Homo sapiens: one gene and its partners. The protein of the gene in region 4 purifies or fractionates together with the protein of the main gene of each other region. This does not show direct contact. Each region holds a gene or a part of one and is shown on either strand. Other genes may lie near its edges. The genes, in order: HADHA, NCAPH, MYH10, WDR76, NOP58, PURA and SPIN1.

Region 1 (4,060 bases), on a different chromosome or scaffold from region 4:
AAAAGAGGCTCAGCAGGCTTTGAATTCCAAGGAGAAGGGAAGGACAGTCAGACCTGGATGCTGCAGAGCAATCTTAATGTCAACTCAAGGGCCCACTGAACCTTATAGCTTCTGGCACTGTAGATTCCTCAGTGAAAACAAGGCTCAACAGAAATACTCTTTGCAGGGAAGTTGATCTCAATTGAGCACAAAAGAAAACAAGGTTTATGGTGTTAATTTTCTAATAATAATAATGTGCTTTCCTTCATAGGAATGTCATAAGGATTTATTGAAAGAATGAATATGCATATATGTGTATCAAAAATATTTGCTGAGTTTCTTTCTTTCTTCTTTTTTTTTTCTTAAACTATAGCTGGTATTTGAATGTTGCTAGAAGCCTTTCTTCTAGTATGCCATATAAGCAGCCCTAGCTGAGTTCTATTTTTGTTAAGCTTAAAATTCTTTTTAAAGACTTTGTCAAAACTATCAGGTTTCTCACAGTCTTCTCTAGTTTCAATATGAGAATTTTATTTTATTTTATTTTTGGGACAGAGTCACTTTTGTTGTTCAGGCTGGAGTACAGTGGCATGATCTCGGCTCACTGCAACCTCTGCCTCCGGATTCAAGCAATTCTTGTGCCTCAGCCTCCCAAGTAGCTGGAATGACAGGTGTGCCCCACCATGCCCAGCTAATTTTTTGTATTTTTAGTAAAGACAGGGTTTCACCATGTCGGGCCAGGCTGGTCTCAAACTCCTAACCTCAGGTGACCCGCCTGCCTTGGCCTCCCAAAGTGCTGGAATTACAGGTGTGAGCCACCGTGCCTGGCCAGAATTTTACATATTATATATATGATAGAAAAAAACCCCTCAGAATAACAGAAATGTACAATTTTAGGAAACATGAAATTCTTTACCTTATTAGTATAAGAATCCTATATATTGAATTAAGAGATAAAGACATTTTTGCTTCAGCTAGAGGTATCTAATCCCCAAAGTTACCCAAGTGTATATCAGTATATTAAATATAACTTATCTATGCTGTTGACAAATAGCATAAACATATGGCTTGACTTTTCTCATTTTAATATTTGTTCATTTGATGATTTGTAAACTATATAATTATCACCCTGATTTTTTTCCCCCTATATTCTCATCCTTGCTTGCCTGTTAGGTGGGTGTGCCTGCTGCTTTGGACATGATGCTGACTGGTAGAAGCATTCGTGCAGACAGGGCAAAGAAAATGGGACTGGTTGACCAACTGGTGGAACCCCTGGGTAAGTGTTAGCACATCTCAGAGTCAGACCTTATAAAGTTACTTATTTTCTTAAAGAGTTAACCTCTTAGGCCAGGCACGGTGGCTCACACCTGTAATCCCAGCACTTTGGGAGGCTGAGGCGGGAAGATCACTTGAGGTCAGGAGTTTGAGACCAGCCTTGCCAACATGGCGAAACCCTGTCTCCACTAAAAATGATTAGCCGGGTGTGGTGGTGCAAACCTGTAGTTCCAGCTACTTGGGAGGCTGAGGCAGGAGGATCGCTTGAACCTGGCGGGGCTGAGGTTGCAGTGAGCCAAGATCATGCCATTGTGCTCCAGCCTGGGCAACAGAGCCAGACTCCCATCTCAAAAGAAAAAACAGTTAACCTCTTGAATATCACAGGAAGCACAGAGAGAAGCTCAAACTCTTAAGAAATGAGTCATTATTCTAAGGAAGGAAGTTTTATAAAATAGCTAATACTAAATCATTTTCAACATCACCCTGATTTTTATTTTGCTTTATAATTAGAACATTAGGAGTACAGAATTCAGTCAAGTCATTATTTTTGGTTCTTAAATTACCTGTATCATTATCCATGCATAACCTTCCTTCAGTTTCTTGTGTCTGTTTTAGTAATATAATAAATGAAACAACCAACCTGAGAATATTAACAATAATTGATATCTACTGATGGGCTACTTCCTCCCATTCAGTTTCTTTGCCTCCCTTTATCCAAAGAAGCCACTATTCTGACTTGTGTGTTCATTACCCTCTTATATTTATTGAAAATCAGCATTATTGAGATATTACTTACATAATAGTAAATGTATTAATTTTGTGTGTGTGTGTGTGTGTGTGTGTGCGCGCGCACACATGTTGGGGTCTCACTCTGTTGCTCAGACTGGAATATGGTGGTGTGAATATAGCTTGTTGCAACCTCAACTTTTTGGGCTCAAATGATCTTCCCACTTGTGCCCCCCGAGTAGCTGAGACCACAGGCATACGCTGCTACACCAGCTAATTTTTTATTTTTTGTAGAAACGAGATCTCACTCTGTTTTCCAGGCTAGTCTCAAACTCCGGGCTCAAGTAATCCTCCTCCCTCAGCCACCCAAAGTGCCGAGATTTACAGGTGTGAGCCACTGTGTCTGGTGAAATTGACCAACTTTTAATGTATAATTTGAGTTTTGAAAATGTATATAGCTGTGTAAACACTGCCACAATCCAAAAATAGCCGTGCATGGTGGCTCACACCTGTAATCATAGCATTTTGGGAGGCTGAGGTGGGAGAATTGCTTGAGGCCTGGAATTCAAGACCAGCCTGGACAACAGAGCAAGATCCTATCTCTTAAAAAAGAATTTTTTTTTTTCAATTAGCTGGGTATCATAGTGTATACCTGTAGTCCCAGCTAGTCAGGAGGCTGAGACAGGAATATTGTTTGAGCCCAGAAGTTCAAGGCTGTAGTGAGCTATGATCACACCACTGCACTCCAGCCTGAGCAACAGAGTGAGATGCCATCTTTTAAACAAAAATTTTTAAACATTTCTGGTATGTAGTTTGTTTTAATCTTCGTTCACTTAGCATAATGCTTTTGAGATGCATCCATACTGTTGCATATATCAGCAGTTTGTCCTTATTGCTGAGTGTTACTCCATTGTAGAAATGTACCATAGTTTGTTTATCCGTTCACCAAATGATGAGCATTTGAGTTGTTTCTAATTTAGGGCTATTCTGAATAAAGCTGCTATGAACATTCATCTTTAAGTCTTTATGTGGGCGTGACTGGGCGTGGTGGCTCAAGCCTCTAATCCCAGCACTTTGGGAGGCTGAGGCAGGCTGATCACCTGAGGTCAGGAATTCAACACCAGCCTGACCAACATGGCGAAACCCCATCTCTACTAAAAATACAAAAATTAGCTGGGTGTAGTGGTGTGCACCTGTGGTCCCAGCTACTTGGGAGGCTAAGGTAGGAGAATCACTTGAACCCAGGAGGTGGAGGTTGCCGTGAGCCAAGATTGTGCCACTGCACTCCAGCCTGGGTGACAGAGCGAGACTCTGTCTCAAAAAAAAAAAAAGTCTTTATGTGGACAAATGTTTCATTTCTGTTGGGTAAGTACTGAAGAGTGGATTGGCTAGTCCATATAACAGATATATATTAGCTTTTGAAAAAAAAAGTTTGGCCTGAGCAACATAGCAAGACTCTGTCTCAACAAAATAAAAAGTTTTAACTAGTTGGGTGTGGTGGCACATGCCTGTAGTCCTGGCTACTAGGGAGGCTGAGGCAGGAGGATTGCTTGAACCCAGGAGTTTGAAGTCACATGGAGCTATGATCAGGCCACTGCACTCCAGCCTGGGTGAGAGAGGGAGACCTTATCTCTGGGAAGAAAAAAAAAAAATTTAGAGATGAGACTTTGAGTCTTGCTCTGTCACCCAGGCTGGCCTCAGACTCCTGGGCTCAAGCAGTCTTCCTGCCTCAGCCTCCCAAGAAGCCGGGATTACGAGGCATATGCCACTAGTATTTGCTAGGTATGTGTTTGCTTTTCTGTCAGACTGTTTTCCCAAAGTGGTTATACTCTTTTGCATTCCCACCAGCAGTGTATGAGAGTTCTAGGTACCAACCACTTTGCATGGTCAATCTTTTTAATTTTAGACATTCTAACAGGAATGTAGTAACAGTTCTTTTTTCTTTTTTTTTTTTTGAGACAAAGTCTCGCTCTGTTGCCCAGGCTGGAGTGCAGTGGAACAATTTTGGCTCACTGCAACCTCTGCCTGCCAGGTTCAAGCGATTCTCCTGCCTCAGCGTCCCAAGTAGCTGGGACTACAGGCG
Region 2 (4,060 bases), on a different chromosome or scaffold from region 4:
CATCAACATTGAGGCAAGACCCTTTAACAGCAAAAATATTACAACTCACTGAAGGCTGATATGATCATTATAATTTTTTAGCAATGAAATATTTTTAATTAAGGTATGTAAATTGTTTTTTAGACATATACTGTTGCACACTTAATAGACTCCAGCATAGTATAAGCATAACTTTTAAATTTGTGTGACTGGAAGTGCCTGTATTAAACACTGGACATTTGGCTAGGGACACCTGAGAGTGTGCCCAGAGGAGAGTATTCTAAATGAAGATGCAGTTAGAAGTTGTGTCATATGAAGAACAGTGGAAGAAAATGGGGCGTTTCTTAATTCAAGTATTTATTGTTTAGTAGTAGTTTTGGATTTGTTACAAGCACATTGTGGGTTTATTTGAGTTGTTTTTGAGGCACAGAATTATATTAAAATATTCAGTGTGCTCTTGTAAACTGTGCACATCTCCAGTCACATTTCTCCTACTTCAGAGATTTATATATCAAGTAGAAATCACTGGTCTAAGGAAGGACCTGCAAATATTTGAAAGACTGTGATCCATAGGCACTCGTAAAAGAGGAGCCTCATTCCACGAGGCTCTGGAATACAGAATGAGGATGATGGATGTAATTAGAGGGAAGAGCTGGATGTCTCTCCTTGTTGCCATGTAGGGAACAGTGGTTTCCATTCAGGAATGAGACAGGCTGTTAATTAAGGTAATGGGTTTTCCTTTTTTTTTTTAAAGACAGGGTCTCAGGCTGGAGTGCAGTGGTATGAGTATGGCTCAGTGCAGCCTCAACCCCTGGGCTCAAATGATCCTCCTGCCTCAGCCTCCTGAGTAGCTGAGACCACAGGCACACAGCACCATGCCATCTTTTTTTGTAGAGATGGGGTCTCACTGTGTTGCCCAACGCTAGTCTCAAAATTCCTAGGCTCAAGCAGTTCTCCCACCTCAGCCTCTCAAAATGCTGGGATTACAGGTGTGAGTCACCGTGCCTGGCTGGTAATGGGTTTTCTGTCAAAATTGTTCAAGTGCAACAAGGTGACTTTCAGAAAGCTGGAGGGTAGATTTTCCAACTTTTGTTTTTAGTGAAGGAACCCTTTTTCAGGTAAAACTGTGCAGAAGGCCTAATTGCCAGTCACACAGAAATAGAGCTGCTCTGGTTTATTTGGGATTGGTAGAGATGCTGAGCCCTGCTACTCCAGGTTTGCACTGTATAGTGGAAAAGTCTGTTAGACTTAGATGACTTGTGAGGGCCCTTCTGACTCTAAAATTGTATAATTCTAGGAGGAGATTGGGCATAGGAATTAAGATTTACTTCTCTAACCTAGTTCAGTAGCTTTTAACAAAATAGCTTTCTGCATTTATTCTTTCCTTTAGTTACTTAAGATGGCCCAGGGCCATAGGGTAGAGACTGAGCATTATGAAGAAATTGAAGACTATGATTACAACAACCCTAACGACACCTCCAACTTTTGCCCTGGATTACAGGTAAAGGGGGGAAAGGGGCTCTGTCCTCTCTTCTAAGCCAGGGAGTCGTTTTTCTCTGCTTCTCATGTCCCCATTTTATATGGTGGGAGACTGTTGGCAATTTTGAATCCAGTGGAGGTTTTCTGGGTAAAGGGTCTGCCTTCCACCCAGTGCAGGGAGCTGAGCAGAGTCAAGGAAACAGCCTCACCTTGGCCTGCCTTACCTCACATCCTACATGCAGGAAGCAAATGGCCACACTCAAGTGAATGCGTCGACATGTGGATGGGTGTTTAGCCTCTGCTACAAAGTACTAATCTTGGCTGTTGTGGGATTTCAAAGGAATATAAACACTTTGTCCTCTTATGAGCTAATATTTTGGCCAGGTAGACAACCAGATCACACCATATGTGATCTGGTGTGGCAAAAAATAAGTCTTCGGGGTGTATCTCAGATGACCAGATTTCTAGCTGTGAATGCAGTTCTCATATTGCAAGCTTGCTGTGAACTTGTACAAGCCACCCCCCATCTTTAGATCACGGTTTAGACTAAATAATTTCCATATCCCTTCTCTGAGTCTACTGATGAGATGGCTAATACAGGTAACAGAAACTGGAAAAATAGGCTTCATCTGTGTCCCTGTATGTGGAAAGGGGGGAACGAACTGGAAAAAAATGTATTCACCTTATTTTCTTACTTAGGAAGAGAGTTAGGCTGTTATATTTTAGTGAAAATCCAGACTGACCTCTTGACTAGTGCTTCTCAAACTTTAACTTACATACAAATCACCCAGGGAGCCTATTTAAGGACTGATTCCTGACCTGTGTCCCCCCACCCCACCCCCTGCCCGAAGATACTGATACATTCACTCTGGATGTGATCGCAAAAATGACTTTCTCACCTGCTTCTGGGTGGTATGCCTGCTACTGACCAGATGGCCCCAGGAATCTCCTGTGCTTTCCTTGGGTGATATGTTCAGGTCATATCTCCGGTATTTGAGGAATGTTTCTGTAAAATGAAATCCTAAATTTGTTAGAAGCTGAAGGGGGGACATAGTGGCAATTATGGTTATCGAATTCCTTTTAACTCCCGCTCAAAAGGTCTTAGGTTGATAACAGACACCTCTCTAATAGGGTTTACGTGAAACAGGATGATAACTAGAGGCACCTAGAAGTTCATCGTAGTGTAACTCACTGAGTGAACCATCAGATGGTCTCTTCTTGCTTTGTAAACATGGAGTCTATTTCAAGGGTGTTTCTGAGCTCCTCTGCAGCGTCCACCAAACTCGAAGAGCTGTTTCTTGCCCAGGCTGCTGACAGTGATGATGAAGATTTGGATGACTTATTTGTGGGACCTGTTGGGAACTCTGACCTCTCACCTTATCCTTGCCATCCACCTAAGACAGCACAACAGAATGGTGACACTCCAGAAGCCCAAGGATTAGACATCACAACATATGGGGAGTCAAACTTGGTAGCTGAGCCTCAGAAGGTACGGATGAAACAGCTGAGAATTACATTGTTTGCCTGAAATCTATTTAATTGTCTCTTATATGAGAGTCACGCAATCTGAGCTTGATTTCTTTTCTTCTCAGTTTTAACCTGTTGCTCTCCAAGTTTTAAATAGGGTTGTGGGAGTGAGCTGATGCTAATTAGGTTTGTGTGGAACTGACCATCTCTCCAAAGACCTTGATAAGACATGTAACTAGGGAGGAACTGGTCACCCAAATAAGGCATATGAATGAAGGCTGCAGGCAGAGAATATAAATTTATATGCTAATTCAGCAAGGCTAGCTAGCTAGCTGTGTGGCTCTGAAAAATCTTGGCCAAATTCAGTTTGTATTAAATTATCATGTATTAAACATTTATCTCTTCCATACCAGGTGGCAGGCTTTATGCTTGCCTTTATATTTGATTCATTTATCTCTTTTACACTGGAATTCCAGTTAGCCTTAATGTAGATTGCACTGGATTGAAAAGAAATTAGATTTGATATGAGGGACTCTATATAGTGTCCAAAGAGAGCTCTGGGCTGGGCGTGGTGGCTCACGCCTGTAATCCCAGCACTTTGGGAGGCCAAGGCGGGCAGATCACGATGTCAGGAGTTCGAGACCAGCCCGGCCAACATGGTGAAACCCCGTCTTTAATAAAAATACAAAAATTAGCTGGGCATGGTGGCAGGTGCCTGTAATCCCAGCTATTCTAGAGGCTGAGGCAGGAGAGTCATTTGAACCCAGGAGGCAGAGGTTGCAGTAAGCTGAGATCATGCTATTGCACTTCAGCCTGGGCAACAGGTCGAGACTCCGTCTCAAAAAAAAAAAAAAAAAAAAAAAAGAGTTTGAGACCGCGTGGCCAAAATGGTGAAATACCATCTCTACTAAAAATACAAAAATTAGCCAGGTGCCTGTAATCCCAGCTCCATGGGAGGCTGAGGCTGGAGAATCGCTTGAACCCAGGAGGCGGAGGTTGCAGTGAGCTGAGATTGCACCATTGCCATCCAGCCTGGGTGACAAGAGTGAAACTCTGTCTCAAAACAAACAAACAAACAAACAAAACAAGAGAGCTCTGTAGCTCCTTGGTTGAAACTGGATTCCTTCTTTAGTTG
Region 3 (4,060 bases), on a different chromosome or scaffold from region 4:
CGTTATAGCACATATATACACACGCTAAGTGCATAATATTTTTATACCATTTCAGGGATTTTGTTGAAGTTGAGATTAGCTGATGGACTCAAGAACCTCTTAACAACCTTAGACTACTTTATGATTTCCTCTTGCCTACAAAGAACCTCTAGCATTTTTGGCTAGGGGAGTGGAGTGAACAGAGGGGAGAAGTGGGGATTTGATAGAGCAAGAGTAGGTACTCAGTTGGCTTCTTCTGTTGGTTTGAATGAAGTGATGGAAGCCATGCCTATGAAATTTATAATAACCTGGAATTTGGAGTAGCAGCAAAAATGTTTAAGTTGGTATCAAATCCCAAAAAGATCCTGTCAGGCAATCATGATGAGTCACATTAGAAAGATGATGGATGTAAAATCCTGCCATTTGGTCCAGAAAGCCAGTGCACAAGTAGAGGAGGGGACATAGCTTAGCCACAAAGTGATGGAGCTTCCTCTGCTAGCCCTTTGTGAGCCAATGGTAAATGGGTGCTAAATAAAACAACTAGGTCTTGAGATACATTAATTGTAAATGTCACAGAACCAGTACTTTCCTCAATGTGGCTAAGATAGTTGATGGTTCCTTTTTCTTCTGCACTGGTCAGACCATATCTGGGCTATGATGTTTGCTTCTGGGCCACACACTTTAGAGGGAAGACAAGCAGCATGTTGGAGTCTGTTTAGGCGAGAGATCCGGCAGGGGAAGGAGTCTTGGTGAATGAGGGGTGGAGGAGCTGCAGGATGGGAATAGAGGCCTGAACTGCTACCATGACATATTCAAAAGGCTGCCGTGTGAAGCCAAGTTATGCTTGTCTTTTGTGGTCCCAGTTGATCACATTAAGACCTCATGGGGCCATAGAAAAGCTAGAGGGAGACTGATTTGGGTTATTCATAAGAAGAACTTTAAGTCTGTTATCTGAGGGTAGAATGAGAGGCATGTTTTAGATTCTTTAGATTCTTTACTCTTCTGACAATCATGTGTTTTTGTAGCTGTTTCCTTGTGGTCATATTAATTCTGGTACCACTTCATGAACCTTTTATTACCCATCTTTGTTTTCTTTTTTTTTTTCCCTTCTTAACTCCCTGTTTAATTTGTGGTGAGGGTGAAAGAGGAGATAAAGAAAAAAAAGGGTCAACTTGTAACTTTGCCTTTTCTTTTCTTTTCTTTTCTTTTTTTTGCCCTCAGTAACTGAGGGCAAACCCATCAGACAACCAGAGCCATAATTTGTGGTCACCGCTGAAATTTACCTTGGAAACTCGGTTAGTATGGCTGTGAAGAGGTATACCCCAGCTCCTTAACACAGAGTTAATGCTTAATCTAAGGTTTTAAGTTTCTTAGAAAAGAAAAACGTGTACATTCTTTTGTTTCTTAAACATCTAATTTTGCCCTCCTCCTCTTCTCTTAGAGGCAATTGCTTTTGGATCGTTCCATTTACAATGGCGCAGAGAACTGGACTCGAGGATCCAGAGAGGTATCTCTTTGTGGACAGGGCTGTCATCTACAACCCTGCCACTCAAGCTGATTGGACAGCTAAAAAGCTAGTGTGGATTCCATCAGAACGCCATGGTTTTGAGGCAGCTAGTATCAAAGAAGAACGGGGAGATGAAGTTATGGTGGAGTTGGCAGAGAATGGAAAGAAAGCAATGGTCAACAAAGATGATATTCAGAAGATGAACCCACCTAAGTTTTCCAAGGTGGAGGATATGGCAGAATTGACATGCTTGAATGAAGCTTCCGTTTTACATAATCTGAAGGATCGCTACTATTCAGGACTAATCTATGTAAGTATTTCTTCCAAATAATCATGTGAAGTGGTAGCTAGGAATTAATGTAAATTATACATCTTGTCATAATCAAATGAGAATGTGGAATACCCAAACTCTCTGTTTAACATTTCTATTTCTCTTTAAGATAGAAAGATTTGTTGCTTGCTTACCCATGTCTTGCTTTTCTTTGAATCTTAACACATTAAGTTTAAATAATACAGGCTGCAATTACATATAATAAAATGGCATTTGAAGACTTTTGTAGTGGTCTTCTGGAGCATAATAAGGTGGGAGAGAGCATGTAACAGGAAGACCAGAAGGTTTAATAAGGTAAAGAGAGTTGCATTAATTGGACGCAGACAGCAAAACGGTCAAAAATCAAGTGCATACCCAAGAGTAAAGTGGAGGGGCTGTAAGCTGAGAAATTTCTGTGGACAGCATGAACAGCTTCACTGGATGTAGTAGGGAAGTAGGAAAGATGAATGCTGAGGTTTTTAAGAGGAAACAATTAGGGTAAGATTGAGGCTGGCTGGGGTCGTCCTGTGGTTAGCAGCTGACATGAATGTTGGAGTCACCGACTTTGTCACTGACCATGTAGAAGAAGTTATTGAAAATCATAAGGGATAATGTAGAGAGGGATAATGTAGAGAGGAAAAATGTAAGCCAGATACTAAAAGAAAAATCTAAAATGACAAAATAGGTTTGAGGGAATGGTAGACAGAGGTGGCAATGATTTGAAGAAGGTGGCACGTGTGGGACTTAAACTGACGATGAAGGGAAGTAGGAAGAAAAGTTGATGGTCGTGGTTTGAAATCGGAAAAGGGGTGTTGAATTTTACACAAGGAGTGTGCTACTGAAGGTCATGAATAATTCAAAACTTCAGTAAATCAGAGCTAGTTTTCCTACAGAATTAGTTTAAGGAATATTTATTAAGCACCCCCTGTGCTCTAGGTGCTGGGGATAGTACAGTGAAGAAGACAGGCCAGGTCTCTCTGCCTTTCTGAAATGTCCAATGAGGAAATGAAACAAGGCTATGGAGAGAGTAAGTAGGAGAATGGCTTTCTCCAGCGGGTCAGTTAAGGGCTGTTTGTGAAGGTAGCATTTGAGCTGGAGTCTGACTGGTGGGAGGCAGCTAGCCACGAGAAAAGCTGAGAAAAGAATGATTCATTCATGACCTTTGCCAGAGTAGTTTCAACCAAGCCTGATAGATCTCCCTTATTTTCTTCTCTATGAGGTAGGAGAGTAAGAGGCCACAGGGTTGGAACGGTGGCTTGAGGAGAATGGAAAGGCTTAGGAACAACCCTTTTCCAATTTCAGACTAAGCCAGGGATAAGAAAGCGACTGGAGAGTGGCGTTGAGAGTCCAGCTGAGATTGAATAACCACGTGTAGGGTGACCGCAATTTTGCCTGGCTATGTGATTTTGCCAGACCATGGGATTGTCTCAGGTCTGTGAGTGTGGGGGGCTTTGGATCTGCATGGCTTCCACAGTGAGAGGGGGATTCAGTGGCCGTCTTTGGAGTCCTCGTTCGGTAGGAATGGGAGTCTGGGTGGGAGGGGCTGATGGATCAAGGCCTGGAAGTTTTCAGAATGTTGAGGAACAGGGATCATGGGGTGAAGGAGTGAGAAAACTGCAAAATTAAGAGGTTATGGTCAGATTGTAATGTCGACATGTAAGATTTGAGAGGTTGATCAGTTTCAGATGAAGCCCATTGCAATAAATTGTGCAGGTATGGAAATGTGATGTCACCATCAAAAACTGTGCAGTGTGAAGAGGAGCCAGGCTGCTTTTCTGCCAGCCTTCACCTTAATTTCCCACACTGGCAGCTGGAGGTAGCTGCAAAGGGTGCTAAGTAGAAAAGGAATGAAAGAAAGGACAGGTGTTTTTTTGTTGTTTTTGTTTTTGTTTTGCAGCCATTCCACATAATTCAGAGATTTTACAGTTATCTCTTACTGAGTTTGTTGGATTTTTTTCCAACTTAACTCATGGACAACCTGAGTGAACTTCTGAGTTTCTTTTCAAAGCACAGCCTCCTTCTACAGGAGAATCTGAGTTTTTCTCAAAGTCTCAAGGTCACACAGAGGTCGGGGTTTGGGAGGATCATATCTTCAATTAGTTGGGTGGAGAAAGGGTTCTTACCTAAGGTTCTAGTTGGAGAACTTGACTCCAAAGAAGTCTGTGTCGTTAAGAGGATGGGGATGGGGAGAGCCATGCTAGCATTGTGATAAATATGTATTGGGCTTTGGAATTAACCAGCCAGTTGGGATGATCAGTTGAGGT
Region 4 (4,060 bases):
AGCTACTAATCAGCGGGCAACAGGACCAGTGCTACTGTTTTTCCAGTGTTAATGATGTTCCTCTTATAGTAACTTTTCACACTTGAAAATACCTGGCCATGATTAAAGGTCCAGCTTTTCTCAAGCTAATTGTCCTGTAACAGAATCAAACCAAGTAAATGAAGCTACATTTCATTAGGAACTGGCACTAAACAAATGAGCTAATGATACCAAGATTTTAGTTTCTTCATTTATATGTAAGCACTGCTAAAATGCAATGGAGATAATTCAAAATTTAAACACCCTTGAGTTCAAATCCTAAAGCTACCACTTATAAGCTGTTTTGACTTTCAGCAAATAGTTGTTTTTTTTTGTTTTTTTTTTTTTTGTGAGATGGAGTCTCACTCTTATTGCCCAGGCTGGAGTGCAATGGTGCAATCTTGGCTCACCATGACCTCTGCCTCCCGGGTTCAAGCGATTCTCCTGCTTTAGCCTCTTGAGTAGCTGGGATTCAGACATGTGCCACCACACCCGGCTAATTTTTAATTTTTTTTTTTTTTTTAGTAGCGATGGGGTTTCTCCATGTTGGTCAGGCCAGTCTTGAACTCTCGACCTCAGGTGACCCCCTGACTCAACCTCCCAAAGTGCTGGGATTATAGGCATGAGCCACTGCACCCAGCCAACAATTTTATCTTTTGAGCCTGATTTCTAACTCACAAAATGAATATATTACCTACCACATGCAGTGGTTGTCAGAGTTAAATGAGATAATATAGGACAAAATTGCTAGATCACTGCAGTATGTTTCAGAGATATTCAATAAATGTTAATTCCTTTCCTTTATTCTAGGACTAAGAAAGCAAAAACAAATTGAGACGCAAAAAGATAGCCAGAAAAATTAAAAGTAAGTAGAAGAATCTTTAATAGTTTTCTAAGTGACAGTAATTTAGTGGAAATAAAGATTTCCCTTCATTAGTAGCAACAATAAATATAAACAAAATTCAGCTCTCCATTTTATTTGCTCCATATTCCTTTGATGAAGATGAGAATTGTAAAGTTATTAAAGGGTAGCATTCCCTCAGAGATCCTAGAGGGACTGAGATTAAATAGCACTTTATGATCTGTTAAGCTTACCACACCAAACCATTTTTTTCAAATTATAAAACAGTTGAGCAATGTATCATGGTTCAGGCATTGCAAACTAGATATTTTACCTTTTGGATTTAGGAGGCTGTCTCTTCTCTATCATTTCACGGAGTCTTGCAGCAGACTGTAAAGTATAAAAATCATGTAAAAATGTTATAACTACGTATCTTACCTTTTAAAATATTAAGCATCTGCTACTATACCCACACTAAACTAAGGTCTATTCAGGAACTAAAGATCCTTAAGATAGGCCATGAGTCATGATCAGCGCCACTGTACTCCAGCCTGGGCAACGCAGCGAGACCCTGTCTCAAAAAAAAAAAAGACAGGCCAGGCATGGTGGATCACAACTGTAATCCCAGCACTTTGGGAGGTCAAGGCAAGTAGATCACCCGAGGTCAGCAGTTCGAGACCAGCCTTACCAACATGGTGAAACCCCATTCCTACTAAAAATACAAAAATTACAGGCGTGGTGGCGGGCGCCTGTAATCCCAGCTACTTGGGAAGCTAAGGTAGGAGAATCACTTGAACCCGGGAGGCAGAGGTTGCAGTGAGCCAAGATCGTGCCATTGCACTCCAGCCTGGGCAACAAGAGCAAAACTCCGTCTCAAAAAAAAAAAAAAAGACAAAAAAAATAATGCCTTAGAATCAACAGAGTACAGTAACCTCTTCCTATTAAGCACAAAACCTGCTCCAATTTTACCCTCCCTCATATGACACTATGAAACCTGATATGTTATTGACCTGGTGGGAGTTATGACATCTTGGGTTTTACGGCTCTTGTTGTTGCTGTTTTGAGACAGGGTCTGGCTCTGTTGCCCAAGCTGGAATGCAGTGGCATGATCATAGCTCACGGCAGCCTTGACTTTCCAAACTCAAGCCATCCTTCCACCTCAGCCACCCCAGTAGCTAGGACTCCAGACATGCATCACTATGCTCAACTAATTTACTTTTTATAGAGATTGGGGTGGGGGGCGGGGGGCGGGGGGCGGGTCTCCGTATGTTACCCAGGCTGATCTCGAACTCCTGGCCTCAAGCGATTCTCCCATGTCAGCCTCCCCAAGTGACAGGATTACAGGCGCTACCCACTGTTCCCGGCCCTGCATCTTGCTTTTAAATAGACTCCACACAAACCTCAGACAACTGAAGAGAAGCAAAAAAGTCTGCGTTTTCTGATATGTTCTTCAGTCTCTTCCTTTCGTAGGGTGACAATCCCGAAAAATCCTATAAAATTACACCAAAAAGATTCCATTACTTTATATAATCTACAGGAAAAGCACTTCACAAAACTACATGTTTCATTTTCTACATGAATACTTTACTTCAAATTGTACTATCTCTATTCATTTCATCATCTTACCAAAACAGACGTTTGCTGAATTGGATATTTCAGTAAGTCTGGATTTGGGATACCCCCAAAATATCTGTATGGCTTCCCAGTTAAGAAGTGATCTGATATTAGAAATCAAGTAGTATGATCTAGTAGCAAATTATTTCCTAGTGGCAATTAATTGTACTATTACACAAAAGTTATTTTTGGCCAGGGGCAGTGGCTCACGCCTGTAATCCCATCAATTTGGGAAGCTGAAGTGGATGGAACACCTGAGGTCTGGAGTTCAAGACCAACCTGGCCAAAATGGTGAAACCTCATCTCTACTAAAAATATAAAAGTTGGTCAGACGTGGTGGCTCACACCTGTAATCCCAGCACTTTGGGAGGCCGAAGTGGGCAGATCACCTGAAGTCAGGAGTTCGAGACCAGCCTGGCCAACATGGTGAAATCCTGTCTCAACTAAAAATACAAAAAAAAAAAAAAAATTAGCCAGGTATAGTGGCAGGAGCCTGTAATCCCAGCTACTCAGGAGGCCGGGGCAGGAAAATCGCTTGAACCTGGGAGGTGGGGGTTGCAGCAAGCCGAGATCGCACCATTGCACTCTAGCCTGGACAATAAGAGCGAAACTCCGTCTCAAAAAAAAAAAAAAAAAAAGTTATTTTTTTCCAACAAAAAAACTTCCCTTAAACGCAGTAGAGTGAGTAAGTACATGTCTCTACTTTCTCCTAAAAAGCCACTAATGTAACAGTAAGCTAATTTTTTAAAACCCTGAGATATAAGGCAGTATATTCAGGAAATAGCAAAATACTGTAAGAAAAGAAAATTCAAAAAATAAGAACTCAATAGTTTTTAAATCCATGAAAAGGCTTAAATTTAGAAAGTAGAACAAAAAGATAAACACATGAACAGAAAAGACAAAAAAATACTCAGTCTTAGAGGTCCAATATCCAATTCATTGTTCGAGAAACTGCTGAGAAATTGGAAGAGAATCAATTATTAAAAAATAATATAAATGGCAGGCCGGGTGTGGTGGCTCACGCCTGTAATCCTAGCACTTTGAGAGGCCGAGGCAGGCAGATCACCAGGTCAGGAAATCAGGACCATCCTGGCCAGCATGGCAAAACCCAGTCTCTACTAAAAATACAAAAATTAGCCGGGTGTGGTGACACACGCCTGTAGTCCCAGCTACTCGGGAGGCTGAGACAGAAGAATTGCTTGAACCCGGGAGATGGAGGTTGCAGTGAACCCAGATCATGCCACTGCACTCCATCCAGCCTGGGCCACAGAGCAAGACTCCGTCTCAAAAAACAAACAAACAAAAAAAAAAAAGAAAGGGCTGGGAGCAGTGGCTCACGCCTGTAATCCCAGCACTTTGGGAGGCAGAGGCAGGCAGATCACAAGGTCAGGAGATCGAGACCATCCTAGCTAACACAGTGAAAGCCCATCTCTACTAAAAAATACAAAAAATTAGCCGGGCATGGTGGTGGGCGCCTGTAGTCCCAGCTACACAGGAGGCTGAGGCAGGAGAATGGCATGAACCCGGGAGGCGGAGCTTGCAGTGAGCCGAGATGGCGCCACTGCACTCCACTCTGGGCAACAGAGC
Region 5 (4,060 bases), on a different chromosome or scaffold from region 4:
TTAGGTGTGAAGACGTTTTCTCCTTTCATTTCCCCCATGCTGATTGAGTGTTTTCCTGTACCATAGTAACTACATTGATTACTAAATCAGAATTCATTTAGCTCACCACATCTCTTGAATGTGATTGACCTACTTGAAAAATATTAATACCTTTAACTTTTGGAAACTATTAGTCTTCATAAACTACCCCAAAGCCACTAAAATGAAACAACATTGTGTGCTTATGTAAGTATTATCTAATGGCATTTTCTTTATCTCTTGAGAATTATTTCAATTCCAGATACTTGTTAGAGATTTTCTAAAACTTTTTGGGTCTTTCAGTGAAGTGAAGACTTACGATCCTTCTGGTGACTCCACACTTCCAACCTGTTCTAAAAAACGCAAAATAGAACAGGTAGATAAAGAGGATGAAATTACTGAAAAGAAAGCCAAAAAAGCCAAGATTAAAGTTAAAGGTTAGTTTGAATTTTTTTTTTAACACAACTTATACTCACTTCTTTAGAACTGTGGATTTTGTGAGTCTTAAAAGTACATGCCATCCCACTTTATTATAAAACTGCTCATTGAACGCTAATGGTGTTTTAATAATGCCATTATGTTCTCTGGGAATATGATATTGTTAAATTTATCAGACTGCACAGAGGAAATGTGAGAAGTTTAGTCAAATTAGGTATTTTACTAAGAGTTCCAAAACTTCATTTCTCCTACATGAACTATTTGGAGAATTAAGAGAAAAAAGGAACGTGTTTTCTAAATTGGTTGTTGAAAATTTTTTGTTTTATAGTTAAGAATGAATACAGAATTGATGGAACAGTGATTTTCTTCATTGTTTCTCTTACACGGAGCGGACTGGAAGGAATACATACTGGTAGCCTGCCGTCATAGTTACAATATCTAACAGGTGCTCACCAGTTAACTAGGCTGTCTTGTGAAGTTGATAAGCAGGCGCCCCATTATTAGTTACACCTGGGTTTATTGAACACCTACTAGCAAGTCTAGCAGAAGAGTAAAGCATTAACACAATGATTGCTTTAACTTGGTTTCTAAGTAGCTTAGTGGTCAAAAGTATATGATCTACAAATGTGGATAGTATACTTGATAGAGAAAACAAACAATTTATTTAACTTTTATGCTTCTTTTTATTGAAAAGTAAGGAGATCCCTAAACCCACTAGTAGCATTTGAGGCACCAAACTCTGTCCTTTGTATCCTCAATTGTGTATCCAATAAGCTTTTCCAATTTATTTGTCAATTTTTCATCCCACAATTTCCCCCCTCTTTTTTTACCCCCAAGACAGAATCTTGCTCTGTCACCCATGCTGGAGTGCAGTGGCATGATCTTGGCTCACTGCAACCTCCACCTCCCAGGTTCAAGCAATTTTCCTGCCTCAGCCTCTTGAGTAGCTGTGATTACAGGCACGCACCACCACGCCCAGCTAATTTTTTTATTTTTAGTAGAGACAGGGTTTCACCATGTTGGCCAGCCTGGTCTCAAACTCCTGACCTTGTGATCCACCCACTCCGGCCTCCCAAACTGCTGGGATTACAGGCATGAGCCACCACGCCCAGTCCTCTCCCATTTTCTATATGTGACAATTCCAGTTGCTTTGGCCATCAACCTTGACTTTTTTCTCATAACTCAATCTAGTCTGACAGCAAATCCTCTCAGTTCCACTTGAAAGTATGTAGTAGCCACAGTGGAACCACCACTAGCTTTTTAAATCTAAATTTGTTCCAGCCATACTGGCCTGCTTGCTATTTCCTGAACCTACTATCCATCCACTTATCCCATCTGCCCTCCAAAACGCCTTACGACTTAAGCATCTGCTCTACTCTACCTGGACTATTTTCCCTCAAGATACATGTATCATTCATTCACTCCCTCACCTCTTCTAGGTGTTTGCCGACCATTCTGCCTAAAATGGCCATATATACTGCCCTTTTCCAACATTCCCCTTCCTGCTTTATTTTTATTCTTACCACTTTAATATCTATTATGTAATGTATCATTTATGTCTCCACTCTGCCACTAAAATAAAAAAGATTCATAGGGAAACGAATATTTTTGCCTCTTGTGCCTTGCTCGAATTGTTTAGTACAGAGTCTGACATGAATATTATTTGGTTGCTGAATTGCTGAATTTCTCTCTCTTTTCTTTTTCTTTTTTTTTTCTTTTTTTTTTTTTTTTTTTTTTGAGACAGAGTCTCCCTCTGTCGCCCAGGCTGAAGTGCAGTGGCGTGATCTTGGCTGACTGCAGCCTCCGCCTCCTGGGTTCAAGCAATTCTCGTGCTTCAGCCTCCTGAATAACTGGGATTACAGGCATGCACCACCATGCCTAGCTAACTTTTTTGTATTTTTATTAGATACAGGATTTCACCATGTTGGCCAGGCTGGTCTTGATATCCTGACCTCAAGTGATCCTCCCGCCTCAGCCTCCCAAAGTGCTGAGATTACAGGCGTGAGCCACTGCACCCAGCTGGTCACTGAATGTCTAATGATAGCTATGTGTTGAGTCCTTATTGTAATGTGTGCTAAGCATTATACTTAGTGCTTTCTATGCATCATCTTTTTAAATCAGTAACAGTCCAGTAAGATAAGACATTCTTAAGTTTTATAGATAGGGAGCTTCACCAAGGGTAAATACAATTTTTCAGGGTTGCAGCAGGTAGATTAAACCCAGGCCGTCTGACTTCAGAGTGCAAGCTCTTAACCATTTCTAATATAATTGACTTTCTTCCCAATAATGATTGGAGATCAGATGACCTTTGTTTTAATCCTGATTTTTATACATGACTTCATGATCGTGAGAAGATTGCTCTGAGCTCTATCTATATCATTCGTTAAAGTTAGTGGTAGGCCTTGGAGAACCTTCCCAATTATAAAATAAACAAAACAAACATTGGGTAGTTGATGAGAATGACAGAAAAAAACTAGGACTCAAACGTTTTTGGAAGGAATGAGATCTGATACAGTGTTAATTTGTTGTGCCTTTACACTTACCCTATTCAGTTGAAGAAGAGGAAGAAGAAAAAGTGGCAGAAGAAGAAGAAACATCTGTGAAGAAGAAGAAGAAAAGGGGTAAAAAGAAACACATTAAGGAAGAACCACTTTCTGAGGAAGAACCATGTACCAGCACAGCAATTGCTGTATGTTTGTTTTTAATTATCGGTTTTCACTTGGAGGGGCCAGTTCTCTATATTTCAATCTATTTTCTATATCAGAAATGAGCAGGCATTTTAAAAAATGGTTTTCATTGATGGAGAGGTAAAAGTGAAATGGCTTTGTTGTATTTATATTATAAAAGGCCATTTCCCAAATCTAGAATTTATTACTAAAAATCAAGTTTGCATTGAGGGGAGGAGTATGATTTGCTCAAGCTTACTTTTTTTATAGGTGGGGTTTTTATATTTTCAATGTGATTACTCACCCATACAATTTCAGCTCTTTCAAAGCATTCTTGTTGGCTATTTTCAGAGTCCAGAGAAAAAGAAGAAAAAGAAAAAAAAGAGAGAGAACGAGGATTAACAGAAAGGAATTACGATTATATCACCCGGACACACATCATGCTTAAGATTCAACTGGGAGCATACCAGGGATGCTCTCTAACGTAATCAAGGGAAGGTTCAGTAAGACAAAGTGATTTATCATCTATAACTTCAAACCTATTTGTCTTGACATCAACTCTGTTAACCTTATGTCATCATTTCTTAGAGTCTTTGATATACAAATAAAATTTTCTTTGTATTTTAAGACAATTTTGTGATCTCTTTATATCTTAGGTAGAGAATCTTTGGCTCTTTCTGTAGTTTGCCATGTGATGATTATTGTTTTGATAATTATAACTGAAAAGTGAGAGTTGTTTTGAAATTTAATCTTTTGGAAGTCAGTGATTAAGTGGACCAATTCAAGACCCCACTCTAATGTGTTTCTTTTGCCTTTTTGGACTACTTTTTATTTTCCACCTATAATCTTTCTACCTCTTTATTTAAATAAATATTTGTTTCTTATTCAAATTTTTAAATTAGGTGAGCAAAACTTTTTAGTTCAAAAGGGTGGGAGAC
Region 6 (4,060 bases), on a different chromosome or scaffold from region 4:
TTGTTTGCTTTTAATATTCAATGTTAAATATGAGGTGACCGTACAGTAGTTAGGAGTTTCTTTACTTACAAAATCACTGGAAATGATTAAATTGCTTTTCCCCCTCCCCAGAGGTGCATTTTTCTTATTTCCATATAGTAAAGTTGAGCTTTTACAGTGCATAATGTGACATTTGGAATGCTTATCAACTGCATGTAAACATTAATAACCTGCACTTTTTTGTCTTAAGGTTTGTTGAGCTGTTTTGTTCACTGTACTTTAACTGTGATATGGAAAAGACTGCATTCTCTGTGCTGTTACTAATTAGGAAAGAGAATTGCTTTGATTTTGTCTCTTGTTTACTATAGCTTCTTAAAGTTAAGCCTTGTACTACAGGTTGTTGGAGTACTCCTAGATCACTGTTTCATAGTAGCCAGCAATAAGTAGTGCAAGTCAACAAAAACACAGCAAACTTAGGCAAAGTGTCCTTTCTTTGAGATGCGAGTTCTTTCATGAGGTTTTCTTTAGGGCCAGAGTTACCTAAAGTGAAGCCTTTCTTATCTATAGACTTCAGATTCTGCTTGGAATCCCACCGGCTCAAGAAGCACATGTATTGTGCAATTAATTGTCTTTACACTAAAACAGTTTAATACAATCTAACTACGATTTTGAAACCAGTGTCTGATTTATGGTCAGTGGGTTTAAAAAGAAATCCACATGCAGATCTTTTAAGACTTAAAAAGTGATCATAGAAAAGACTAAGTGACTGTAAAGATGCTCTTTTTTTAAGCATCTCACTTTACCTCCCCAAGCACCCTCCCAAACCTTGTCTTCCCTCTTCTGTTGCATCCTTTCCCTACCCTTCCCTCCCAGGTGCTCGGTACTTTACCTAGTTTCTATATATCAGTGTTTTATGTTGGAATTTTTCCTTGTTTTTATTTTACTAGTTGGTAAACCCTGTTTATGCTGAAACAAATAAGGAAATGGTATATTTGACCATATGTGTTATTCATAGAAGACAGTATGATCAAATGTGCCAAAAACAAGCAAACAAAACTTAATTCCTGAGAAGTATGCCTTATTTTTATTGATCTGCTTTGTCTTACAATTAAGGTCCAAGAGCTTGGTTAAACTGTATTATTTGCCTAAGTATAAAAGAAAACTTGAACTGCATTGCAATATTGACGTTCTTTAAAATGAGAGACACTGTCAAGTAATTTAATCCAGAGATCAGCCACCAGATTTGAAATGCTTATGTATGTGTGTGTGTTTGGAGTTGTTTTTTTCTTTTAAATCACCAAATTTTTTTTAAGCTACTTTTTATTTGTGCCTCCTATTTATCATGCTGATGTTAGAAGCAGCAGTCATCCAGCCACAGAGGGAGCTAAAGTTAACTAACCAGAACTGTAGAAATCATTATACATGCCTTTGACAACAAAGGAAGTTCATAAGAAAAGCCATGTCGGCTTTTCCTCTACTAGATACAGATTGGAGGTAGATGAATATTTGCCAAATGGAAAAAAAGACAATGCTAGTCAGAAAAGACAAACTGTTTTCCAGCTTCTCAAAAAGCCATGGAGAGTAGAAACCAAAACCAACAGGGAAATAAAAAACCTTGAAAGTCTCACTTTCTAGTTGTCCCATGCAGGGGTTGAAATTTGATTCCAAGCGGAAAGTATATTATGTTTTTTCAGGCCTTCACATCTAGAGAGATGGATAACTTCCAATTTGATTTTTCAGGTAATAGAGAAAGCTGCTAGTAATTTTAACCCCTGCCTAAAGAAGACATATACTTCATTTGGGAGCAAATACTTATTGCCTTGAAAAGTAGCACTGTAATAGCCTATGATAATTAGTTGTAGAATAACCTTTATCCCTTTCAAACTATGCAAATTATTAAATAAGTGTAAATTAGGATTCAATTAAAGATAGTTGATTATATTGCAATCAGATGGCATTCACAAACTTAACTGGAGCATATACAAATATATTAGTCTAAGTTTTGTATGCTAACAGAAAGATATAATTTAGCTACCTATTCTAAAAATGGTGAATATTATTAATATTGTATAATAGGAGTGGGAAGACTGCCTCCTTTTTTGAAGAGAGAGATTAAGGATTTTTATAATTGTTTTTCATCAAATTTTAATATTTTTGTCAAATTTTTAGGTATTTAATTTGTAAAACAGTTTGCTTTGTACTGGCATACAGAAAATAGGGTATTGATTTTAAACTTTTTGAAGCCAAGTGATCAAGTACATTTGTAATAAAAGTCAATGGATCTATATCAGTTGTACTCACTGTTTTCATTTCTTATTAATATAGGGATGCTGTACTTTTTCTTAAGGAAAACTGAATTAAATTTGGGTGGAAGGGAGGGGGAAAAGATAAATCCGTTGATAATGAGAATCTGGGTGGGTATCATGGCCCAAGCACTTTATATCATTTTTTAAGTCAGTTAAGATTTGATATATTTTAAAAGATACTATGTCAACTTTTTTCTTCCTATTTTCTTATGTAACTTGACGTTTGGGGGGATTATCTCATTCATTTTTGTTTGTGTGCTTTTAACATTTTGTGTTTTGGCCCTGTTCAAACTTTCTAAACACATTTTTCTTTTATGACATTTTGGGTTATCTGCTAGACCTGGTGACCCCACCATATGGGCATGATTATTTTTATCTTCCACACATGGTTCACCTTCTTGTCTACAATATTCCCACTCATTTTTTCAGGTTATATATACACACACATTTCCAGATAATTTTAGAATGGGGCTATCTGAAATTGATGGTCTAGTAGCTTTCATAGCTCCACAATTCATTTTATTTTACATGTGAACATAATTTTAAGATTTTCTTCACCATAAAAAGTGAGATACCAAGTCTAATGACTTTTTTCCCTTTTTAAAATCTTTTGAGTATCAGAATGAGACCTTGCTATCTATGTAAAAGGATGCTAAAACAAGGGCATCTGTAGCAACTTAGGTTTGGAATAGTTGGTGATGACTCTGAGTATAACATTTATAGTTTATTATCCCTAAATTTGAATATCTTCATAATTTGGAGAGAGATGTATACACACACATACACATATATATGTATATATACATTGTGTGTGTGTATATGTATATAGATACACACATCTCCTTGAGAGTGGAATAAGTAGGAGAGATAATTTATTGGAATTGCTTACATAGATAAATTCACCAAAGTTATTTGTGTAGATTTGTTAAAGTGTATCAATTTTTAAATCACAATATTTCTGTTTTCTTCATTGCATATTAACCAAATTTTGGCCATTCATAAGTATGCTATAAAACTAAAGTGATCACTGCTATTCACGAATTATTATAGAATCTTCTTTGCAGATTTTGTGATATATTAAGAAAAGCTGATTTTAATATTAATATTTAAGAAGTTATTTGATCCTGAAAACCTAAATTTAAGGTATAGGCCATTTGACACGTCCTTTTTGAACAGAAATTTCATTACAGGCTAAGTGAAAATAAGCCAGAATTAGCATGAGTCAGGTAGAATTTCATGATAAAAGAACAACCAGATGAAATAAGAAATAATGATTGGTTTCAAGCCAATGAATCTGCTAAGCTAACTACCAAGTTTTGATGTTGAATGGTCCAGGCAATTTATGTCTTTAGGAAAGCTGAGTGTGGCAAAGGTCACTTGTTAACATTTTTCTTAACAAGAATGTCATAACTACTCATTCATTTTTATTTTGTCCCCACGTTTGGTATTTGTTTTGTTTTGTGTTTTTCCTTCCTGATGTCCTTTGCTTTTGTGGAAGATTGTCCTGTTGATAGGCAGAAACATGGTGGTGATCCTCTATGTAAAATATAGTTGCTTCTTACACATCAGAAGTATTTCACTCATTTTGGAATCACAGGATTTTCATGTTTTCATAAATACACACATTGTTTTGATAATTATTAGCAATTAGCTTATTTTGTAGCATTAGATGGAAAAATGTTTAAGCTAAAGAGTTTAATTTTCTTGATTTTGGTTCCACTTTAATAATTCAAGAGGCCTCCAAGTTCAAGGACCAAGTCCTTCTATTTTAGAAT
Region 7 (4,060 bases), on a different chromosome or scaffold from region 4:
TCTCAACCTAATACATAAAATTACCAGCAAGAAAAAAAAAGTACAAGAATGACAGTTTATGGTTGAATTGGCTTGGTGTCATGATTCCCTGTTGTAGCATTCTCAGGCTATCTATGATAACAGAAACTGCAGCCACATTTGAATGGTTCCCTTCTTGATTCATTCTGAACTCTCCCTTTGGCCCAGTGTCTACTAGTTTTTCAAGCCAAGAACATCTGTTGAGTAACAGGTATCTCAATTTTGCCATACTTCCTTTCTGCATAGGTAGCAGCGTTCTTACTTCTACTCCTGAGGCAAGCCATCTCTGATGTCCTGGAAGGTCGTTTCTCTTCTATCCAGTTGTTGGGATGAATCTTCTGGTAGAAGGGAAGGGAATTTGGTACTAGGGTTGAAAGTCACGCTACTGAAGTTCTTTATTGACATCTCTGAGCAGAAGAGAGGCCCGAGTCGTCCTGGGGATTTTCTTCACTGAGCATTTGTGAAGATTCTGGGGTCAAGGTTGGGTTAAACTTTTGTGGTGGGTCCATCCGCGGTCTAGTCAACAGTACTAAGCTCTTCCTGCATCTTTGGGACCCAGCGGGAAGTGATGCCAGCTCTCAAATTGCTACAAGGTATCCTGGAAAGAAATCTATGACCCAGAAAGAGCCTGAAAACCCAAACTCCAGCAAATATTGGTGAAAGAGCCAACCCGCAAAGCCTTTTAAAACCTTGAATTCCTTACCTATAAACTGGGATAAAACCTATGGTGTAAGTCTGTTCTGAGAATTACATGAAATGGATTTATAGAGTTCTCAGTACAGTTCCTGAAATACAGCAGCTGACGCCAGTAGATGTTGATTTCCTTCTCCTTTCTACTTTTGAACTTAGCTGTAGTTATTAGCATTTTTTTAATGTTGAGGTAAACAGTTTCCTTAGTTGTGCATCAGTATTCAGTCCAATTTAATGTTAAATTATGTTTTTACTGGGAGCCTGTTCATGACCTTAAAATTGCCGTAAACCCTTTATAGAACAAGTCGTGTTTGGCTAAATATATAAACACAGATGTATCCTTACAGACTTTATAGTCTGATAGAGGAGATACACATGCATATAATGAGGGAATTCTGTGCTGAAGGTATCTGGGAAGAGAAGGTGATTCCATAGATTATCAGAATGGGAGAAGAAAGACATCTGGATGGAGGGGAAAGCAGGAACAGAGGCATGAGAGGAGTTAAAGAGGCCATCGGGGATTTCAATCCCAGCCAAAAGTTAGCCCCTTGTTACCTGTCTCCTCTCCTCTCCTCTCTTCTCCTTCCTTCCCTCCTTCCTTCCTTCTTTCCTTCCTTCCTTCCTTCCTCCCTCTTTTTCTACCTATCTACCTAGCTACTATTTTCTATCTATCCTCCTTTGTGAGTGTGTTTATGTATAGCAGGGGACGAGAACACCTACCTCATCAGGGGTGAGCTTAAATGAAGTAAAATGTTTCATAGGCTCCTGGTGTACAGTAAATGCCCAGTTGATATTGATGATGATGTCACCACTGCCTACACCACCTGTAGTTTCTTTCCTATGGCTGATCTGTCTAGGGATGAATTTGGGGGCCACCTTTTAAATTCTGCATGTAACATTAAGGTGGTTGGTGTTGAATTTGTAGGCAGAGGGAAACCATTGAAAGCAGGGGCAGGATTGGACCTGTGTTTTAGAACAGTATGAAAGGTGAGTTGGAGGAACCTGCCCATGTAGGATCTTTAATCTCCAGAGTCTAGCCTGTTAGAGAAGCTGGTGAAGTCATTTAAGGCATGGGGTATTGGTCTGAACTCAGAATATTTAATGTTATGTTAAATGTGCTTTTTTTTTTTTTTTTCCTGAAGGGAGGGGAGGAGGAAGAATTTACTCAATGTAAATATTATTTTATCCAAATGGTGAGAGAATACATGAAAAGACTAGTAAGGCATCTTTTTACCATTTGAGATGTTATAGTAGCGTGTTAACAAAATAGGCAATTTTTTTTTTAAAACTAGGTTATATTTCTTTGTAGTTGTTTATGCTTGGGCCTGTCTGCAAATGATTTAACAAATCATATCATATATTTGAATTACTGTTGCTTAACCTGACACAGGCAATAAGGAGAGAAAAGAATGTCCTTTTTCTTGCTTTTGGGTTTTTTTTTTTTTTTTTTTTTTTTTTTTGAGACGGAGTCTCCCTCTGTCACCAGGCTGGAGTGCAGTGGCGCAGTCTCAGCTGACTGCACCCTCCACCTCCCGGGAGTCAAGCGATTCTCCTGCCTCAGCCTCCCGAATAGCTGGGTCTACAGGCATGTGCCACCACACCTAGCTAATTTTTGTATTTTTAGTAGAGACGGGGGTTTCATCATGTTGGCCAGGATGGTCTCGATCTCTTGACATTGTGATCTGCCCGCCTCGGCCTCCCAGAGTGTTGGGATTACAGGCGTCAGCCATCTCTCCAGAGCTGATTTTTTTTGGAGGGAGGGGTTTGAATTACTTTTTTCTTTCTCTCTTTAGCATCATTGTAGACCCATGGATTTTTATGTATCCAATGTGTGTTTTTGGTTTTTTAAATTTTGAGACAGTCTTGCTCTGTCACCCAGGCTGGAGTGCAGTGGTGTGACCTTGGCTTACTACAACCTCCGCCTCCCGGGTTCAAGCTATTCTCCTGGCTCAGCCTCCCAAGCAGCTGGGATTACAGGCGTGCACCACCATGCCTGGCAAATTTTTTGTATTTTTAGTAGAGATGGGGTTTTACCTTGTTGGTCCAGCTGGTCTCAAACTCCCAAGCTCAAGTGATCCTCTCACCTCAGCCTCCCAAAGTGCTGGGATTACAGGTGTGAGCCACCATGTGTGGCTTTATCCAGTGTTTTAATCAAATACTCACTGTTTTTCCTTAGCTTTTCACAACTTGGACATGTTGAGGTCCTTTCAACCTGGTTCTCTTTCCTTTGACATGACACGTAATCTCTGAAGCTTTTCTTGCTTTCTGACACAAGATGTCTAAGGTTCACTTTGTGCTTTTCCTGCCAAATACCTATCAACCGAGTCTTTCAGCTTGCTTTATTGAGGATTAGAATTTAGATACAGAAATCTGGGTGTTATATGTTCTTACTGTTAGAATGCCCATGCTTTTATTGGACAGCCATGGGAAGCATACAGATTTTGATTTTTATATTGGTATTTCCAGTTCGAATTTAACATCACAGAGTTTTTACTATGAGCTTATCCTTTTTTCTCTAACGTTGAAAATTTACATTCTTAGCAACATTAATATAATTGCATTATCTTACAGTATAAATGTAGTTTGAAAATAACACTAATAAGCAACTGTAGCTTTATGTTTGGTTATGGTTTTTTCCTTAAAATATATCCACATAAGCATGTACAGTTGACATTCTAATTTGGAAGGCCATTTGAAAAGATTTTCTCTGATTATGTTATATGTTTGATAATTAATTTGGGTTGTTTGCCTGAAATTCTTCCTTTAAGAATTGCTTTAGTTTTTTATTTAATGTATTTTTTTTTTTTTTTTTTTGAGACAGAGTCTCGCTCTGTCGCCCAGGCTGGAGTCCAGTGGTGCGATCTCGGCTCACTGCAAGCTCCGCCTCCCGGGTTCACGCCATTCTCCTGCCTCAGCCTCCTGAGTAGCTGGGACTACAGGTGCCCGCCACCACGCCCGGCTAATTTTTGTATTTTTAGTAGAGACGGGGTTTCACTATGTTAGCCAAGATGGTCTCGATCTCCTGACCTCGTGATCTGTCCGCCTCGGCCTGCCAAAGTGCTGGGATTACAGGCGTGAGCCACCGCGCCTGGCCTATTTAATGTATTTTTTAACATGTAGAACATTTATGTGAACATTTATGTAGTTAAAAAATCTGATCTGTGTTAAAAAGTTATGTTCACAGCTTCACTTTAATTCTGTTCCTCCACGAATTTCTCTCTTGCCCCAGTTGTTTTTGCTTTGTTTTTCTGATATTTCATTTTTGCAAATGTAAGCATATGTGTATATTTTTGTTTCCCTTTCCTACACAATAGGCAGCGTTCTATGCACACTGCTCTGCCGTTCTATGCAC

The links.
Region 1: the proteins of WDR76 (region 4) and HADHA purify together in Homo sapiens (affinity purification with mass spectrometry, with the first as the bait; 2 studies listed by BioGRID). This does not show direct contact.
Region 2: the proteins of WDR76 (region 4) and NCAPH purify together in Homo sapiens (affinity purification with mass spectrometry, with the first as the bait; 2 studies listed by BioGRID). This does not show direct contact.
Region 3: the proteins of WDR76 (region 4) and MYH10 purify together in Homo sapiens (affinity purification with mass spectrometry, with the first as the bait; 2 studies listed by BioGRID). This does not show direct contact.
Region 5: the proteins of WDR76 (region 4) and NOP58 purify together in Homo sapiens (affinity purification with mass spectrometry, with the first as the bait; 2 studies listed by BioGRID). This does not show direct contact.
Region 6: the proteins of WDR76 (region 4) and PURA purify together in Homo sapiens (affinity purification with mass spectrometry, with the first as the bait; 2 studies listed by BioGRID). This does not show direct contact.
Region 7: the proteins of WDR76 (region 4) and SPIN1 purify together in Homo sapiens (affinity purification with mass spectrometry; 2 studies listed by BioGRID and IntAct, with this or other methods). This does not show direct contact.

The regions. Positions count from the first base shown.
Region 1 is NC_000002.12:26,227,384-26,231,443, reverse strand, and holds part of HADHA (trifunctional enzyme subunit alpha, mitochondrial precursor), read left to right. Parts: intron 1-1,149; coding exon 1,150-1,252; intron 1,253-4,060. UniProt on the Homo sapiens protein: Mitochondrial trifunctional enzyme catalyzes the last three of the four reactions of the mitochondrial beta-oxidation pathway.
Region 2 is NC_000002.12:96,363,112-96,367,171, forward strand, and holds part of NCAPH (condensin complex subunit 2), read left to right. Parts: intron 1-1,369; coding exon 1,370-1,480; intron 1,481-2,764; coding exon 2,765-2,947; intron 2,948-4,060. UniProt on the Homo sapiens protein: Regulatory subunit of the condensin complex, a complex required for conversion of interphase chromatin into mitotic-like condense chromosomes.
Region 3 is NC_000017.11:8,620,638-8,624,697, reverse strand, and holds part of MYH10 (myosin-10), read left to right. Parts: intron 1-1,420; 5' UTR 1,421-1,451; coding exon 1,452-1,796; intron 1,797-4,060. UniProt on the Homo sapiens protein: Cellular myosin that appears to play a role in cytokinesis, cell shape, and specialized functions such as secretion and capping. Involved with LARP6 in the stabilization of type I collagen mRNAs for CO1A1 and CO1A2.
Region 4 is NC_000015.10:43,833,350-43,837,409, reverse strand, and holds part of WDR76 (WD repeat-containing protein 76), read right to left. Parts: intron 2,350-4,060; coding exon 2,260-2,349; intron 1,250-2,259; coding exon 1,194-1,249; intron 1-1,193. UniProt on the Homo sapiens protein: Specifically binds 5-hydroxymethylcytosine (5hmC), suggesting that it acts as a specific reader of 5hmC.
Region 5 is NC_000002.12:202,299,913-202,303,972, forward strand, and holds the end of NOP58 (nucleolar protein 58), read left to right. Parts: intron 1-321; coding exon 322-455; intron 456-3,008; coding exon 3,009-3,145; intron 3,146-3,473; coding exon 3,474-3,524; 3' UTR 3,525-3,749; downstream 3,750-4,060. UniProt on the Homo sapiens protein: Required for the biogenesis of box C/D snoRNAs such as U3, U8 and U14 snoRNAs. Part of the small subunit (SSU) processome, first precursor of the small eukaryotic ribosomal subunit.
Region 6 is NC_000005.10:140,117,151-140,121,210, forward strand, and holds part of PURA (transcriptional activator protein Pur-alpha), read left to right. Parts: 3' UTR 1-4,060. UniProt on the Homo sapiens protein: This is a probable transcription activator that specifically binds the purine-rich single strand of the PUR element located upstream of the MYC gene. May play a role in the initiation of DNA replication and in recombination.
Region 7 is NC_000009.12:88,391,306-88,395,365, forward strand, and holds part of SPIN1 (spindlin-1), read left to right. Parts: intron 1-4,060. UniProt on the Homo sapiens protein: Chromatin reader that specifically recognizes and binds histone H3 both trimethylated at 'Lys-4' and 'Lys-9' (H3K4me3K9me3) and is involved in piRNA-mediated retrotransposon silencing during spermatogenesis.